Homo sapiens: one gene and its partners. The protein of the gene in region 1 purifies or fractionates together with the protein of each later gene. This does not show direct contact. Each region holds a gene or a part of one and is shown in the gene's direction. Other genes may lie near its edges.

What was found. Proteins that work in one complex are often made in the same cells at the same time.
Region 2: the proteins of IQGAP1 (region 1) and MAP2K1 purify together in Homo sapiens (affinity purification with western blotting; 3 studies listed by BioGRID, with this or other methods). This does not show direct contact.
Region 3: the proteins of IQGAP1 (region 1) and MYL6 purify together in Homo sapiens (affinity purification with mass spectrometry; 5 studies listed by BioGRID and IntAct, with this or other methods). This does not show direct contact.

The regions. Positions count from the first base shown.
Region 1 is NC_000015.10:90,496,202-90,502,828, forward strand, and holds the end of IQGAP1 (ras GTPase-activating-like protein IQGAP1), read left to right. Parts: intron 1-1,030; coding exon 1,031-1,139; intron 1,140-3,793; coding exon 3,794-3,907; 3' UTR 3,908-6,038; downstream 6,039-6,627. UniProt on the Homo sapiens protein: Plays a crucial role in regulating the dynamics and assembly of the actin cytoskeleton.
Region 2 is NC_000015.10:66,487,912-66,492,044, forward strand, and holds the end of MAP2K1 (dual specificity mitogen-activated protein kinase kinase 1), read left to right. Parts: intron 1-1,303; coding exon 1,304-1,365; intron 1,366-1,806; coding exon 1,807-1,852; exon of another isoform or gene 1,853-2,590; coding exon 2,591-2,704; 3' UTR 2,705-3,633; downstream 3,634-4,133. UniProt on the Homo sapiens protein: Dual specificity protein kinase which acts as an essential component of the MAP kinase signal transduction pathway.
Region 3 is NC_000012.12:56,154,069-56,161,358, forward strand, and holds the start of MYL6 (myosin light polypeptide 6), read left to right. Parts: upstream 1-4,290; 5' UTR 4,291-4,333; coding exon 4,334-4,336; intron 4,337-4,615; coding exon 4,616-4,643; intron 4,644-5,518; coding exon 5,519-5,662; intron 5,663-5,906; coding exon 5,907-6,080; intron 6,081-6,174; coding exon 6,175-6,252; intron 6,253-6,557; coding exon 6,558-6,586; 3' UTR 6,587-6,602; intron 6,603-7,290. Other genes in the region: MYL6B (myosin light chain 6B), read left to right, coding at 1-24, 745-772, 987-1,130, 1,351-1,524, 3,400-3,477, 3,630-3,658. UniProt on the Homo sapiens protein: Regulatory light chain of myosin. Does not bind calcium.

The DNA.
Region 1 (6,627 bases):
TTTCATGGTTCTCAGCCCTGTTCGTAATAGGTAAGGCAGCTCCATAGTTGAGTTCTGGAAATCTGGGGTGCTATACTTTGATCATCCAGAGAACAGCATAATCCCTTTTTTTTTTTTTTTTTTTTTTTTTTTTTGAGACGGAGTCTCGCCCTATCACCAGACTGGACTGCAGTGGTGATAGGGTATGGTACTCAGCTCACTACAACCTCTGCCTCCCGGGTTCAATCAATTCTCCTGCCTCAGCCTTCTGAGTAGCTGGGACTGCAGGTGCATGCCACTATGCCCAGCTAATTTTTGTATTTTTAATAGAGATAGGGTTTCACCATGTTGGCCAGGATGGCCTCGATCTGACCTCGTGATCCGCCCGCCTCGGTCTCCCAAAGTGCTGGGATTACAGATGTGAGCCACTGTGCCCGGCTGCATAATACCTTTTCCTTTTGGCCCCCCAAAATTTCCTGGCACGTAACATATTGTGAATGAGTGATAACTTAAATACGTTCAATAATAACAATTTATCTTTGGTAATACTGAGTGTGCTTATATACACAGCACCTACTCTTTCTAGAAAACCTCCTCCCTTGGTGCTTTTTATACGGACCCCCTTTTGTTTATTTACTTCTCCCAGTCCTCAAACATGCATGTATTCAAACACATACACCCTCTCCTTCCCCAGTGTCCTCCGTTTTCTCCTTTTATCATTAGGTTTCCTTTTTGGCCATGTGGAAGTGAAGAGAATTCCTATGATGTCATCCCTTCACACGCCACTTGTGGAACTCCTCAGTGGTTCCTCTTTGATAGGATGTAAGTGCTGCAGGCAGAGAGAGGTTGCCATTCCTCTCTCCAAGTCCCAGAGCAGATGGTACTTGGGCTTGGCAATCTGTGCTGCTTCAGCTGCAGAAGTACTTTTGACCTGTATTTTCTGCAGCCCTTTTCACTCTTGAAGACTTGGTTCATCTCCTTTCCCCATTTCACAGAATATTTTTATATGAGAATATAAAAACCATACCCTTACGATGTTATCTTTCAACAGGTTTAAAAATGTTATATTTGAAATCAGTCCAACAGAAGAAGTTGGAGACTTCGAAGTGAAAGCCAAATTCATGGGAGTTCAAATGGAGACTTTTATGTTACATTATCAGGTGGGTATGCACCAGCAGGAACCAAAAACTTTCTGGATGAGATTCTTGTCCAAGTAGGAGAAATAGATAAAGAGGAGACTCATCTGAGGAAAGCTGTCTACATTCAGCAGTGAGCTAGGCTCCACACTGCGGGGAAAGAAGCTGAGGGTTTCAGCATGTCTGGTTTGGTGTGTGCGCTCTGGAGAGCTTTTGCAGATGTCACTCTTCAGAAAACATTTAGCTGAAGCTTCCACTTAGTGCTGCCACTAAATCGAGCTGACACCTTGGACTTGAACAAAATGCAGAAGTACACATGCTGACACTGCAGAATTCTAAGCCCACTCAGTAGCTTGAAATCTTTTTGTCATTTTGATTTGATATAGGTACTTAAAAGTTAGATACATTCTGACAAGGTGTGTGTAAAGTTTATGTTTGTAAACTGAATTCTATCTTAAATCCAAAAAGAACTCGGGAGTAATTCATTTTTGTAGCATAAAGATCCCTAAGTTTTATTTTGAAATATCTGATTTTTACACGTTAAAAAATAACAGGGCATCGAGAGGATTCCTAGGTGACATCCAGACTCCTTTAGCTTTGTGTGTGTGGCACCGGTTAGTCTGCTTCTCTCTCCTTTCTTGCACTGCTTCACACAGCCATGCCCTGCCAGCCCGGGCAGGTGCCTTCCTGTCAATGTACATTTGGGCTTCTGCTCATGCTGCCCTCCCTCCCCTCCCCTGCCTCCCAACCCCGCCCCTTTTGTTCCTCCATGGAGTACTTCCATGGGTGTGCCTCCCCCAGCCAAGCCATAATAGGTGGTTTCCCCTTCGCTTCTGTAGCCCTTGCAGACATCCTCTGTTTACAGTAGGTGTTGACTTACTTCCCCTCTCCCCGCTAAAGCCATAAACTCCTTAAGGACAGGTAGCATTTCTTAGTCATCTTCGTTTCCTTCTCAATGACCAGTAGACCATTAAAACATGTTAGCTAAACAAATGTGAAATGATTTTGTGATGCACACAGCTAACTAAAGTACTTCCACCAAAAAAAAAAAAAGAATAGGAACCTCTTATTCCCTCAGTTTCACCAAATTATTTTTTTAATTTAAAATTTTTTATTTACGTGGAGTTATCAGAACATATTTTTATTTTTAAATTTTTTAACCAAATCATGTTAGGCCAACCAGTCTGCCTGTGGTAATTTATTAATTTATGTACAAATTCATTAAATGTGGGGTAACTGCCAGGTGTGGGGTATTCTGTTAGGCACAGGTCCCAGCAGCCCTCATGGAGCTGCTAGGATTTTTCCAACAGATAATTGAACTTGTGGGGTCCTTTCTTTTTTTGGAGGGGGGGGCAGAGTCTCGCCCTGTCTCCCAGACTGGAGTGTAGTGGCGTGTTCTCCATTCACTGCAACCTCCACCTCGTGGGTTCAAGTGATTCTCCTGCCTCAGCCTCCTGAGTGGCTGGGATTACAGGCGCACACCATCACGCCCGGCTAATTTTTTTTTTTTTTGAGACAGTTTCGCTCTTATTGCCCAAGCTGCAGTGCAATGGCACAATCTCGGCTCACTGCAACCTCCGCCTCCTGGGTTCAAGTGATTCTCCTGCCTCAGCCTCCTGAGTAGCTGAGAATATAGGCGTGCACCACCACGCCCCAACGCCCAGCTAATTTTTGTATTTTTAGTAGAAACAGGGTTTCGCCATGTTGGCCAGGCTGGTCTCTAACTCGTGACTTCGTGATCCGCCTGCCTCGGCCTCCCAAAGTGCTGGGATGACAGGCGTGAGCCACCACACCCGGCCTTGTGGGGTCCTTTCAAGACTTTTGACCCTTGCTTTCTCATCACCACTCTTATAAAGTTCAGAAGTGAGACCACTCAGATTTCTTAAACTTGTTCAGGACAATGGTGAAAGTAGCAGGAAAAGCGGGAGCATTGCAGTCAGATCTGGATTTATCGCCTCCATCTCTGTCCTGTTGTGCAAGTCATTTAACATCTCTGAGTCTCAGTAGCTCATCTTTAAAGTTAGAATAATCGCACCTCATAAAAATTTTTGTGAGGACTTTAAAAGATACTATGTAATGTGCTTACACAATGCCAAGCACATGGCAGACACCTAATAAAACATCAAGTTCTCTCTTTTCCCCTTGCCTTCGGGATAGAAAGTGTTCTCATATGGAATAGAAATTAAGAATCTATCAGATAGTATTAAGGTGACATTACTAGCCTTATCTCATTTCCCCGTGCTTAGTATATTTCATCATAGGTTTAAATGCTTCACCTTTTCCAGATTTATTAAAACTAGTGACCCATAACATGGATGAAATGGGAAAATGTCATTGTGACTTCTGAAATAAAAAGCTTAGATGTGTGTGGCAATTGAACATGTTTCTTTTTCTTTCCATGTATGATGAATTTTGATATGAACAACATGACTTCCTAACTCCAAATCAACCAGAAGCCTCCCTTGGCCAATGTGCCCTATTGCTCCAGCTCTCAGGCTGGTTGTGCAGTGGGTAGTTGCCTAGCGTGGAACTTTTCTTTCGCCCCAGTTCACATCTGGCACACAAGGCAGGCCTCAGTCCATCTGGATCCCTCCCTACATTGTGTCCTTTTTCCTTGTTCCACAGACTTGATTAACTGTCAAAATGTTTTGTTTTGTTTTGTTTTGTTTTGTTAATAGGACCTGCTGCAGCTACAGTATGAAGGAGTTGCAGTCATGAAATTATTTGATAGAGCTAAAGTAAATGTCAACCTCCTGATCTTCCTTCTCAACAAAAAGTTCTACGGGAAGTAATTGATCGTTTGCTGCCAGCCCAGAAGGATGAAGGAAAGAAGCACCTCACAGCTCCTTTCTAGGTCCTTCTTTCCTCATTGGAAGCAAAGACCTAGCCAACAACAGCACCTCAATCTGATACACTCCCGATGCCACATTTTTAACTCCTCTCGCTCTGATGGGACATTTGTTACCCTTTTTTCATAGTGAAATTGTGTTTCAGGCTTAGTCTGACCTTTCTGGTTTCTTCATTTTCTTCCATTACTTAGGAAAGAGTGGAAACTCCACTAAAATTTCTCTGTGTTGTTACAGTCTTAGAGGTTGCAGTACTATATTGTAAGCTTTGGTGTTTGTTTAATTAGCAATAGGGATGGTAGGATTCAAATGTGTGTCATTTAGAAGTGGAAGCTATTAGCACCAATGACATAAATACATACAAGACACACAACTAAAATGTCATGTTATTAACAGTTATTAGGTTGTCATTTAAAAATAAAGTTCCTTTATATTTCTGTCCCATCAGGAAAACTGAAGGATATGGGGAATCATTGGTTATCTTCCATTGTGTTTTTCTTTATGGACAGGAGCTAATGGAAGTGACAGTCATGTTCAAAGGAAGCATTTCTAGAAAAAAGGAGATAATGTTTTTAAATTTCATTATCAAACTTGGGCAATTCTGTTTGTGTAACTCCCCGACTAGTGGATGGGAGAGTCCCATTGCTAAAATTCAGCTACTCAGATAAATTCAGAATGGGTCAAGGCACCTGCCTGTTTTTGTTGGTGCACAGAGATTGACTTGATTCAGAGAGACAATTCACTCCATCCCTATGGCAGAGGAATGGGTTAGCCCTAATGTAGAATGTCATTGTTTTTAAAACTGTTTTATATCTTAAGAGTGCCTTATTAAAGTATAGATGTATGTCTTAAAATGTGGGTGATAGGAATTTTAAAGATTTATATAATGCATCAAAAGCCTTAGAATAAGAAAAGCTTTTTTTAAATTGCTTTATCTGTATATCTGAACTCTTGAAACTTATAGCTAAAACACTAGGATTTATCTGCAGTGTTCAGGGAGATAATTCTGCCTTTAATTGTCTAAAACAAAAACAAAACCAGCCAACCTATGTTACACGTGAGATTAAAACCAATTTTTTCCCCATTTTTTCTCCTTTTTTCTCTTGCTGCCCACATTGTGCCTTTATTTTATGAGCCCCAGTTTTCTGGGCTTAGTTTAAAAAAAAAATCAAGTCTAAACATTGCATTTAGAAAGCTTTTGTTCTTGGATAAAAAGTCATACACTTTAAAAAAAAAAAAAACTTTTTCCAGGAAAATATATTGAAATCATGCTGCTGAGCCTCTATTTTCTTTCTTTGATGTTTTGATTCAGTATTCTTTTATCATAAATTTTTAGCATTTAAAAATTCACTGATGTACATTAAGCCAATAAACTGCTTTAATGAATAACAAACTATGTAGTGTGTCCCTATTATAAATGCATTGGAGAAGTATTTTTATGAGACTCTTTACTCAGGTGCATGGTTACAGCCCACAGGGAGGCATGGAGTGCCATGGAAGGATTCGCCACTACCCAGACCTTGTTTTTTGTTGTATTTTGGAAGACAGGTTTTTTAAAGAAACATTTTCCTCAGATTAAAAGATGATGCTATTACAACTAGCATTGCCTCAAAAACTGGGACCAACCAAAGTGTGTCAACCCTGTTTCCTTAAAAGAGGCTATGAATCCCAAAGGCCACATCCAAGACAGGCAATAATGAGCAGAGTTTACAGCTCCTTTAATAAAATGTGTCAGTAATTTTAAGGTTTATAGTTCCCTCAACACAATTGCTAATGCAGAATAGTGTAAAATGCGCTTCAAGAATGTTGATGATGATGATATAGAATTGTGGCTTTAGTAGCACAGAGGATGCCCCAACAAACTCATGGCGTTGAAACCACACAGTTCTCATTACTGTTATTTATTAGCTGTAGCATTCTCTGTCTCCTCTCTCTCCTCCTTTGACCTTCTCCTCGACCAGCCATCATGACATTTACCATGAATTTACTTCCTCCCAAGAGTTTGGACTGCCCGTCAGATTGTTGCTGCACATAGTTGCCTTTGTATCTCTGTATGAAATAAAAGGTCATTTGTTCATGTTTGTGTTTTTCTCAGTTTCATTGTTAACAGTTCCTGCTAAACACCTTGACTAGAGTGAGATGTATCAGTTAAAATCACAACAGCAGACAACCCCTTCCTTTTAAAGGAGAAAACGTAAGTCCACCATCAGATCATTGAATGTCTCAAAGTGACTTTTAATGTGTGAACGTGTGACTTTAGCCTTTTTAATGAATATGCTTAAGTTATCTTCACCATAAAAAGAAGGGTGTTGCGGGAAGCAAACATTATATGTCACTTAATTCTGATTGACGAACGGTGGAAAGTTTAAAATTGCAACAGCATTTAACCTTTTTTGACCAGCATACTGTTGTTGAGCACATAGACTGTGCCCCTTAGGGGGTTCCTATGTCACTTGGAAGTCACCAGAAAAGACTAGGGGATGTTGAATGTGGAAAAAGTAAATCACAGCAGTAAAAAAAGAAGAAAAGGGGCTGGCGTAGTGGCTCACACCTGTAATCCCAACACTTTAGGAGGCCGAGGCGGGCCGGATCACCTGAGATCAGGAGTTTTAAGACCAGCCTGGCCAACATGACGAAACCCCTACTAAAAATACAAAAATTAGCTG
Region 2 (4,133 bases), about 24 Mb from region 1:
CTTCCAAATTTTCACATTAATTTCCCATGCAATTCTCCCAAGCATTGCTGAGGTAGGCCAAATTGGTTCCTCTTCAAACAGGTGAGGAAATTGAGCCTCCGAGATGAAAAGTAGCCCAGGTCCTTCCCACCCAGTGCTCTTTCTTCCTTGCCACCTCCCACCTCCCATTCTTACCTCCTAGGAGGCTTGGCTGCATGGCAGTTGTTCTACTGCAGCCTCTGCTGGCACACAGCCCCTCTGCTGCCTAGCTCTTTCCTGTTCAGAAGGAATGGATGCTGCCTCTGGAGGCCAAGCTGCTGGTCTCCTCTCTTCCTTGAATGGTCCCTTGATTCCCTCAGCAGTGGGGACAGTCTGCAGAATGGGGCTTGCTCTGGGTCACTGTTCTAAGAGCTGAGTTCTAGTCCTCACCTAAGATCAGACTGACATGGCCCTCAAAGGAAGAGCACTAGGTTGGGCTTTGTGGTGGGGATCAGTGTCTCATTTTTAGTCCCAAATTAAAAACGAGATTTTGGGCTGTACATCAGAGCAGTGACATCATGGACATTATGTCTGTGGGTCAGCATGGGTACACACAGCTCCCAGCCCAGGTACATAAGTGGGCCCACATTTCCTGGACTGCATGGAACGCCATGAGCCCAGTGCTCCAGAGCCTTGTACTGTATAGTGCTGCATGATCACCATGGGAAAATCTGAAAACAGCCTCATTTCTGGAATGTACAGGTAACATTCTTCCAGATCCAGCCCTCTGTCAGTTAATGTTTTATTAACTTTTCACTGCTTCTCTAGGGCTCAGAAAAGGGATTTTTAAAAACCGGTTTGCTTCTGCAGGTGCTGTCAGACCTGGGCTATGCCTGGTGGTTTGCACGTGCCCCTAGCTGTTGCTGCCAGTAAATTGCTGGTTACGTTCCCATGCCGCACTCCAAGATTTACCATTGTAGAGTGTCAGAGCTTGAAAGGGTCCCTGAGATCATTAGGCCCAACCTCTTCATGTCATAGAAGAGTAAACTGAGGCTCATAGAGGAATAGTGATTAGTTCAAAATCACCCGACAAGTGAGTGGACTTGACTTGGTCCCAATTCTAAATGTGCTATTTGAGATCAGTGGTTCCAACATGGTTACCCAACAGGCAGCACTGGCCTTCTACCTGTGCCTTTCCTTGACTGGATGAGAGTAGTACTGCCTTTGGACTGCAGAGAAGACTTTAAAAAAAAGTAGCACTGGCTGGTGGGAGGGGTGGGATGGGGAGAGGAGATGGCTGGAGCAAGGAGCCAGGCATTTTTCTTATCTCAACATGTGTTTGCAGCCTCCTCCAAAACTGCCCAGTGGAGTGTTCAGTCTGGAATTTCAAGATTTTGTGAATAAATGGTAAGTTGGCTCCTTGTTCTCTGGAAGCGTATACTCTGGATTTGTCAGGCTCCCCACCCCATTTCTGGAAGCACCAGCATTGCTTCTGCAGGCAGAGTTTTGCCCTTTACCCTCCCGTCTGATGATTCTTGGCTGCTGCCATAAGCCCTTTTTTAGAGTGCCAAGACTTATGTGGCATGTCTAACTACATCATGGATGTAGTAGCTGCTCCTTTTGGTACTTGCTCTCCAGGGATTGGCACGTTGCTTTTTGACCTTAGTTTAACTCAGCAAGAATGTATTAACTTACTGTGGGCATGATACTGTGCTTAGAACAGGAGGATGAATCAAGCCCAGGCAATCCTCGGCCTCTAGTGTGCAGAGAAGACAGGCATGCAAACATGTTATTTGAGCTAGAACCAGTGCCAGGCAACAGCTCTTACCTTGTCTTTCTTCCTTTAAGCTTAATAAAAAACCCCGCAGAGAGAGCAGATTTGAAGCAACTCATGGTGAGTCTATTTATTCCGGATTCTTACAGTACCTGTTTATTCATTTGTTCTTCTCTGTCAGTCATCTGTGCAGTACTTCCAGAGCCCATTCATTCCCTGCCCACTGTGGTCCAGCTGAGCCTGGGGCTGCAGAATACCAAACACCAGTCTCCTTTGCTCTCCCATCAGTTTAAGGGAAAGCTGGGGTGACCCCCGCAGCCTGAGTAAGCATATGCCAGAGGAAATGCCTGAGGGGGCCATGGGAAAGAAAAGGCCAGCCCACCCCCTTCATGGGGATGCGGCCTTTCCCTAATACTGACTGCCTCATCTTACATTCAGCCTCCTTCCAGAGTCACTCTCCGCCTGCTGTCTCGTTTGGTGGCAGTGGAAATAGCTAAGTAATACTGTAAATATCTGGACAGCCATAGACGGTGTATATAGTATATAATATGCACTAAGTCCATCATTTTCTTTGTCCCTTCTAACAAGCCTGTGAGGCATTTAAGGCAGAGTTACTGTCTCCATACTGCACGAGTAGGCTCCAAGAGGTGACTTGCCCAAGGCCTCACAGCTGCTGTGACTGGTGGAGCAGGTCTTTGGGCCTGCAGCTGGCCCCACTGTTGCTCAGGGGCAGGTGCCAGGTGCTCTTTCCAAGTGCAGCACAAGCTCTAGACCTGAAACTCTTGGATTTTCCTTCCTGGTGGGTTTTGTTTTTTTGTTTCTTTTTAACACCACGTCCTCTCGTTTCCTTACATGCAGGTTCATGCTTTTATCAAGAGATCTGATGCTGAGGAAGTGGATTTTGCAGGTTGGCTCTGCTCCACCATCGGCCTTAACCAGCCCAGCACACCAACCCATGCTGCTGGCGTCTAAGTGTTTGGGAAGCAACAAAGAGCGAGTCCCCTGCCCGGTGGTTTGCCATGTCGCTTTTGGGCCTCCTTCCCATGCCTGTCTCTGTTCAGATGTGCATTTCACCTGTGACAAAGGATGAAGAACACAGCATGTGCCAAGATTCTACTCTTGTCATTTTTAATATTACTGTCTTTATTCTTATTACTATTATTGTTCCCCTAAGTGGATTGGCTTTGTGCTTGGGGCTATTTGTGTGTATGCTGATGATCAAAACCTGTGCCAGGCTGAATTACAGTGAAATTTTGGTGAATGTGGGTAGTCATTCTTACAATTGCACTGCTGTTCCTGCTCCATGACTGGCTGTCTGCCTGTATTTTCGGGATTCTTTGACATTTGGTGGTACTTTATTCTTGCTGGGCATACTTTCTCTCTAGGAGGGAGCCTTGTGAGATCCTTCACAGGCAGTGCATGTGAAGCATGCTTTGCTGCTATGAAAATGAGCATCAGAGAGTGTACATCATGTTATTTTATTATTATTATTTGCTTTTCATGTAGAACTCAGCAGTTGACATCCAAATCTAGCCAGAGCCCTTCACTGCCATGATAGCTGGGGCTTCACCAGTCTGTCTACTGTGGTGATCTGTAGACTTCTGGTTGTATTTCTATATTTATTTTCAGTATACTGTGTGGGATACTTAGTGGTATGTCTCTTTAAGTTTTGATTAATGTTTCTTAAATGGAATTATTTTGAATGTCACAAATTGATCAAGATATTAAAATGTCGGATTTATCTTTCCCCATATCCAAGTACCAATGCTGTTGTAAACAACGTGTATAGTGCCTAAAATTGTATGAAAATCCTTTTAACCATTTTAACCTAGATGTTTAACAAATCTAATCTCTTATTCTAATAAATATACTATGAAATAAAAAAAAAAGGATGAAAGCTACTTTTGCTTTTGTGGTAAGCTTTTCAGTTTCTTTAGTACACAAGAAATACTGGTTTAGCCAAGCAACACTGGTGAGGGGGAAAGGTGAAGATGAGGAGGAGGCTGGAAGGCAGAAACAGGACACCGAGTTCAGTGCTTTGGACTAATGGGGCTTCCTGTAATTTCAATCTCTGGACTCAGTCCAGCTCTTCTCACCCAACACCCTTATCTGTGACTCTTCCAACCACCTTCCTTGTGGGACCTGTGAATAGATCCTGTATATTCCTTTGATCTCTTTTATACAAGGGAAAAGCAGCTGATGGGGGACTGGGAGCAAATCTGAGAAAAATGACAAAACATTTCTTATCTCACAGAACATTTCTCATTTTCCATATACCAATAGTTGAGCTGAGGGCCTGCCTGCACTTTTAGGCTGTCATGCTCATAGGAGGGCCTTGCTGGTGGCCAGCTTGCCTACCTGGTGTGGGAGCTTTCTGCACAACATAGGACAGTCTGTCTCC
Region 3 (7,290 bases), on another chromosome or scaffold:
CCAGTCGATCTCTCCAAAGTGGTGGTGAGTCTCTGGAAAGTGAAGATAGAATTGGAGGGGGTGGTTTGAGGGTGGGATACAGCCTAGGGGATTAGGGGGTATCTAGAAGGTAGGGAATCAGTGAGCCCTGGAATGAGATTGGGGCTTTCCCTTAGTCCCCCATTTGGAAGCATCCAGTCTTATGACTCTGCTGTTGTCTTTGCTGTTCTCTCCCTCTAACCTATAATCATGTGTGTACAGCACATACACACTCACTTACCCCCTGCTGGAGGCAGGGACTCTTAGATGGGGAACATCTGGGTTCTGAGAACAGTTTCAAGGTGAAGGGAAGAGAGCTGTTGCCTGCCCCTGGCTGGTGGTTCAATTCAAAAGGCCTGCAGCTCTGAACTCCAGGAGGGGAGGCTGAAGAGGACAGACTTGTTAGACAATCACAGCTGGGGGCCAGGGGTAAATTTAGCCTTTGTTCAGCCCCCAGTTATGTGTGGGATGCAGGGCTCAGGGCAATGGAGGGAGGGAAACAGGTGGCATGGGATTAACCCTGTTCCCAGGAAACCCTCCCCACTGTAATTCCTCTTCTTGGGATTCTCCCAAGGCCCAGAGCTGGGAATGGGACTGAGGTGGCTGGGCTTCCAGCCTGGTCCCTTTGGGCCCCTCCTCAGAAGTGGCTGCCAGTTGGTTGGGAGGAGTGCGGGAGAGGGATTGAATAAACTCTCATCTCTCCCCACCTGCTTTTTTCTTCCACAGATCGAGTTTAACAAGGACCAGCTGGAGGGTGAGGAGAAGCTCATCTAAGGCCACTGTCCCATCCCCAATCCCCTGGTCAGATTCTCTTTCTATTCCCCTAACCCCAGTCCTGACCTTGAAACCTCCCATACTAGTCCTCTTTTCCTCCCTTGTTCTGTTCACATAGTTTCTGAAATTCCCTTCTGTCTGGGGGTGATGGGAACCCTAGTCAGTGTCTACACTGACCCTTCCTTATACTTTAGAGTTCAAGGAGGCCTTCGAGCTGTTTGACCGAGTGGGGGATGGCAAGATCCTGTACAGCCAGTGTGGGGACGTGATGAGGGCCCTGGGCCAGAACCCCACCAACGCCGAGGTGCTCAAGGTCCTGGGGAACCCCAAGAGTGATGGTGAGGGGACCCTTGGGAACAATTTGGGTTTTTAGTTTTCAAAAGTTGGATGTTGGTAACAAAAAGAATGAGGTGGATCTCAGGACTTCAAAAACTGTCAAACACAGAAGCAGGAAAATATCCTAAATGCTGAATAGGATGAAAGCATTGTGGTAGGGTTGGGAGCTGGGTCCTATGTAATACTACAATGACCTCTCCTTTACCTCTCTCCAACCTCCAGAGCTGAAGTCGCGGCGTGTGGACTTTGAGACTTTCCTGCCCATGCTCCAGGCAGTGGCCAAGAACCGAGGCCAAGGCACATATGAGGACTACTTGGAGGGGTTTCGTGTGTTTGACAAGGAGGGGAACGGCAAAGTCATGGGAGCAGAGCTCAGACATGTTCTCACCACCCTTGGTGAGGCAGGCAAGGGGGACCAGAACTCCTTTAGAGTGGAGAGGGGGATGGGGTGGGCCAGAAAGACTGGACAGATAAGCAGAGCTAGCAGGAGGCTTACTGTCCTGCAGGTTGTCGGCAGGAGACTGAGAAGGTCAGAGCTATGGGGGTAGAATCTGAAGGACTCGCTCTTCCAGAGGCTAAAGTGCCATCCGGAGGGCAGAGGAAAAGGGATGAGGCGGGAAACCTGAATTTTCATTTTGGAAGAGACGTGTGGGTTGTGTGTTCTGGTACAAGTCTCGTAACCTCCTGGGATTGTTTCCTTGTGGGTCAATACTTTCAGCAGTACTAGGGTGAAATGGAAAGCAAGAGGCATCCATGACCAGGGGAGGATTCCCTTGAGGACTGAGGCTATGGGAGAAGAAGAGGTACCACTCTAAAGAGCGTGGCCTGGCCAGGTATGGTGGCTCACGCCTGTAATCCCAGCATTTTGGGAGACCAAGGCGGGCGGATCACCTTAGCTCGGGAGTTCGAGACCGGCCTGGCCAACATGGTAAAACCCCATCTCTATTAGTAATATAAAAACTAGGCGGGCATGGTGGCACGCACCTATAATCCCAGCTACCCAGGAGGCTGAGGCAGGAGAATCGCTGGAACCCGGGAGTCTGAGGTTGCAGTGAGCCGAGAGATCATGCCACTGTACTCCAGCCTGGGGGACAGAGCAAGGTTCTGTCTCAAAAAAAAAAAAAAAGGCCAGACACGGTGGCTCAAGCCTGTAATCCCAGCACTTTGGGAAGCCGAGGCAGGCGGATCACTTGAGATCAGGAGTTCAAGACCAGCCTGGCCAACATGGTGAAACCTCGTCTCTACTAAAAACACAAAAATTAGCCAGGCATGATGGCGGGTGCCTGTAATCCCAGCTACTTGGTAGGCTAAGGCAGGAGAATCGCTTTAACCCGGGAGGTGGAGGTTGCGGTGAGCCGAGACCGTGCCACTGTACTCCAGCCTGGGTGATAGAGCAAGACTCAGTTTAAAAAAAAGCAAAACAGCATGGGCTGGCCGGGAGCAGTGGCTCACTCCTGTAATCCTAGCACTTTGGGAGGCCAAGGCAGGAGGATCGCTTGAGCCCAGGAGTTCGAGACCAGCCTGGGCAACGTAGTGAGATTCTATCTCTATTTAAAAAAAAAAAAAGTACAAGGCTGGGCGTGGTGGCTCACACCTGTAATCTCAGCATTTTGGGAGGCCGAGATGGGCAGATCATTTGAGCTCAGGAGTTCGAGACCAGCCTGAGCAACATGGCAAAACCATGTCTCTACAAAAAAATTTAAAAATTAGCCAGGCGTGGTGGTGCACGCTTGTAGTCCCAGCTACTTCGAAGGCCGATGTGAATCACTGGAGCCCAGGAGGTGGAAGTTGCAGTGAGCCATGATGATGTCACTGCACTCCAGCCTGGGTGACAGAGGGAGACCCTATCTCAAAAAAAAAAAAAAAAAATTACAATTGTTATGTTTATATTGTTGTTTACAAAAATATATGGAAAAAGCCAGGCGCGGTGGCTCACGCCTGTAATCCTAGCACTTTGGGAGGCCGAGGCAGGTGTATGACCTGAGGTCAAGAGTTTGAGAGCAGCCTGCCCAACATGGCGAAACCTCGTCTCTACCAAAAATACAAAAAATTAGCCGGGCGCCTGTAATCCCAGCTACTCGGGAGGGTGAGGCAGGAGAATCGCGTGAACACGGGAGGCGGAGGTTGCAGTGAGCCGAGATCGCTCCGCTCCACTGCACTCCAGCCTGAGCGACAGGAGCGAAACTCCGTCTCAAAAAAAAAAAGGAAAAGCGTGGCCTGGGTGAGTGAAGGAGGGAAAGGAGGGCCTCAGACGTTGTGTCTGGGATTCAGGAGAGAAGATGACTGAGGAGGAGGTGGAGACCGTTCTGGCAGGACACGAGGACAGCAACGGCTGCATCAACTACGAGGGTGAGGGGACAAAAAAGCGGGAGCGGGGCCGAGGGAGGAGGGCAGCCTGGCGTCTTGCCGCGTGTGGGCGGGGGCACCCCTGGATTACCTAGAGTCAGATGTATTATCCAAAGGCCTGCTTCTGAAGCCCCTCTTGCCTCCTCTCTCTGCAGCCTTCTTGAAACACATCCTAAGCGTCTGAGTGCTGCAGGTAGGGCCCTCCCACCCCTTCGCCGCGCCTTACGAGGCAAGTCTCCCGCCCTTCTCTCAGCCAACATAGAAAAGCAGCGGAGTTCATTCTGCTGTCCGGTTGCTGCACGGGCTCCAGCGCTTCGCAACTTTGGTTTTTTTCCACAGATCCAGTGGGGTCCGGACACTGGGCCCCGCAGGCGAAAGCACGTTCCAGCCACCAGGAGGCCACCTATTGTTTCAAAATAAAGACTGGGTTCCTCTCTTGGTTTCAGACTGCTATTTTTTTCATGGTTGGGGGAGCAGCGGGAGACGGGGAGGGTGCTAGGAGGAGAGGGCGGGAAAAGAGGGCTCTCTCCTCTTCCAATCCTCTGATCTTCCTGCTGTTGGGAGGTGCAGATTCATTGTGCCCCAGCCCACGTCCCCCCACGACCCCCGCCCCCCCACCTCCCCCCACGACCCCCCCCACCTCCGAGCGGGTTCTGTGCCCAGGTGGCGCTGGAGAAAGGAACAGCGGACCCCGCCCAAGTCATTACTAATGTAGCAATCGTCTGCATAAACCCAGGCCACGGTTCCTATTGGCTGAGTCCTCTGAGGGTGACGTCATCGGGACGTACTAAGACTAGGGTTGGGCCGAGAGTCGGAGCCATTACTGCAGGAAAAGGTCCCGGAGAGCTGAGCAGTCAAGATGGTGGGGCCCAGGTCTTGGGAGACGGGCAGGATTGGGGACGAGAGGCAGGAAGAGACGGGTGGGGGGCGAGGAGAAGGCAGGGGTAGGAGGCAAAGGGAATCTGAGGACCCGAAAGGTTGGAGGTGGGGTTGGAAAGACTGGGGCCCTGCGGGGAAGCGAGTCTGCAGCCTGAAACAGGAGTTTGTGGGTCAGAGTTTGTGGGTCAGAGTTTGTGGGGCTGGGATAGAAACTCGGGGGATTGGCGTTCAGATGCTGACCACTTCCCTCTTCTCTGAGCAGTGTGACTTCACCGAAGACCAGACCGCAGGTAGGTTATCTCTGATCCCTACCGAGGTCACCCTTAGGGAGAGGGACACCCTCCCCCCAGCACCTATCCTCTAATCTTAATCTGTCATCTCTTTAGCACCCCCATGAGATTACCCCCTGGATTATTTTCTCTTCTTCTGGATCCTCCATTTTCTTTTCTCACTTTCTTCCTCCCTCCCCTTCCACTCTAGATCTGATCCCAAGCACTGGGTGAGTTTTAGGTGGTGTGGGTATGTGAAAAAACTTGGTCACTTAATGCCTGCTGTGTGTGGGGTCTCGGGAGGGTGTATAAAGCTGCCTGCTTTCCTTTGTCCTTTAATCAGCTACTTCTGCCTCTTTTCTCCTCTTGTGATAACTGTCCCCGCCCTCCCAGCTTGCAGTTGTGAAGATTGTAGAGCAGTGACCTGATATTCTGTGCAGATGGGGACAAGACAGGGGAGTTTGCTAAGGATATGACTGTAGCTATACCCTCTGGAAGTTCTCTTTATACTGGAGGGGTGCGAAGTGGCAGGTTGGGATGACCCTAGTCCCAGGCTGCTGCTCCCACTTCCTTATAAGGACAGGACTGAGACTGGGCGGTGGCGAATTCCTGCCCTGAGAAGTGTAGTAGCAGCAGTGGAGATTGGCAGGCCTGCCGCAGGCAGAGGGGTTGTGTAAATGGATGTTACCAGGCTGCCAGAAGGGGAGGAAGCCTCTATATAGAACACTTGAGTTGGGAGGAAGAGAAATAGAGCCCTCTTAAGTAGACTTTGGTGTACAGTTTGGTGCAGATATCTCGTTTCCTCAGCATGATCAAAGTTGAATGGGCAGCAGAGCTCTGAGGTAGGGTTTGGATTAACCCTCAAATCCTGTGTTGACATTCATCTGAATCCTCAGAGTTCAAGGAGGCCTTCCAGCTGTTTGACCGAACAGGTGATGGCAAGATCCTGTACAGCCAGTGTGGGGATGTGATGAGGGCCCTGGGCCAGAACCCTACCAACGCCGAGGTGCTCAAGGTCCTGGGGAACCCCAAGAGTGATGGTGAGGGGCCTAAAGAACAACTCCTCAGTGTGGTCATGGGCCCACAGTTCTTCAGCTAAGAGCTTCCCTTTATCTTCATAGGCCCCAAACTCAAGCAAGTCTGGATTAGCAAATCCCATGGATTTCCTTGCTTTTAGTGGGGAGTCATCTGTCATCTCTCTGTTCAGTTGAGGTCTCTATAATCCCCTGTCCTGAGAACTTGTGTTACTTCTCTGGCCTGACACTTCCACCTCCTTTATGGCAGAGATGAATGTGAAGGTGCTGGACTTTGAGCACTTTCTGCCCATGCTGCAGACAGTGGCCAAGAACAAGGACCAGGGCACCTATGAGGATTATGTCGAAGGACTTCGGGTGTTTGACAAGGAAGGAAATGGCACCGTCATGGGTGCTGAAATCCGGCATGTTCTTGTCACACTGGGTAAGGTTCTGTGTCCTTGTCCTTGAGCTGAGATGGCACCCTGAGGTACCTCACTTGTCACCCAATTCCAAAAATGCTTTCTTTCCCCCTGCAGGTGAGAAGATGACAGAGGAAGAAGTAGAGATGCTGGTGGCAGGGCATGAGGACAGCAATGGTTGTATCAACTATGAAGGTAAGAGGTGAACTGCGCTTTCTCAGAGAAAGCAGCCATATGGGGCAGGTCAAGTATAGTGTCTGGGGCTTTCCCTATCCCTGGACTTGGGCTCCAAAAAGAGCCAGGAGGCAAGGTGCAGGGCCCTGCCCAGCCCAGCCCAGGAGTGGGAGGTCAGGGCGGTATAACAGGAAAGGAAGGGGGTAGTATTGTAGAGGGTGGGAAGGAATGAGAAGTGAAATAATGGAATGTCTGTCCCCACTGCCTGACCCCTCACCCCATGTCTTTGTCTTGTCTTCACCATGAATGTCTCTTCCTTCCTGCAGCGTTTGTGAGGCATATCCTGTCGGGGTGACGGGCCCATGGGGCGGGTACGGCTCCTCCCAGCCTCTCCTCTAGTTGATCTCCCCAGTGTTTCTTTTTTCCCCAACCTGTGCTCTTTATCCCCTGCCCTTACCCTACTACCATCTGACTTCCTCCTGGCATGTTTCTGCATGGAGCTGACTAGGGAGGGGAGGGATTCCTCAAAGAGGAAGACAACCTGGGGGTACAGTACCTCCTTACCTCTAGAATGGGCCCTGAGGTTTTACTTATGCGGCCCTGGGTGCTGGTGTCTGGGAACTCTCACCAGCCTGTATACCAGTCTTGCTTTAGGGTGACCTTCTGGCCCTGGAGCATGGGTAGCTGGCATAGAGGGGTATGGGTTGCCTGCCCCATTCTGCTGCTATAGCTGAACAGTCCTTTCCCCTTCCCTCGCTGGGCAGCTTGGAGGTACCCTAACCCAAAACTCTGTCCTCTCCTCCCGCCAGTGGCTGACAGTAGCTGTAGGTGTAGTGGAGAACTTTTCTGCCTCTGCTGTGTTCTTGCTGCTTAGGTTTGGGTGGGGGACTAACAGCTGCTGGGAGGGGAGCTAGGGGCATGGAGAACTGGTCAGACTCAAGGTGGCTCCTCTGCAAACTGACCCCAGGGTTGGTTGCTGTGGGCATGTTCCCGCTTATGCTACCTTTGCAGTCTGGTAGTCCCCTGGCCCTTGGCGTACCCCTCCACAGCCCTGTTCCC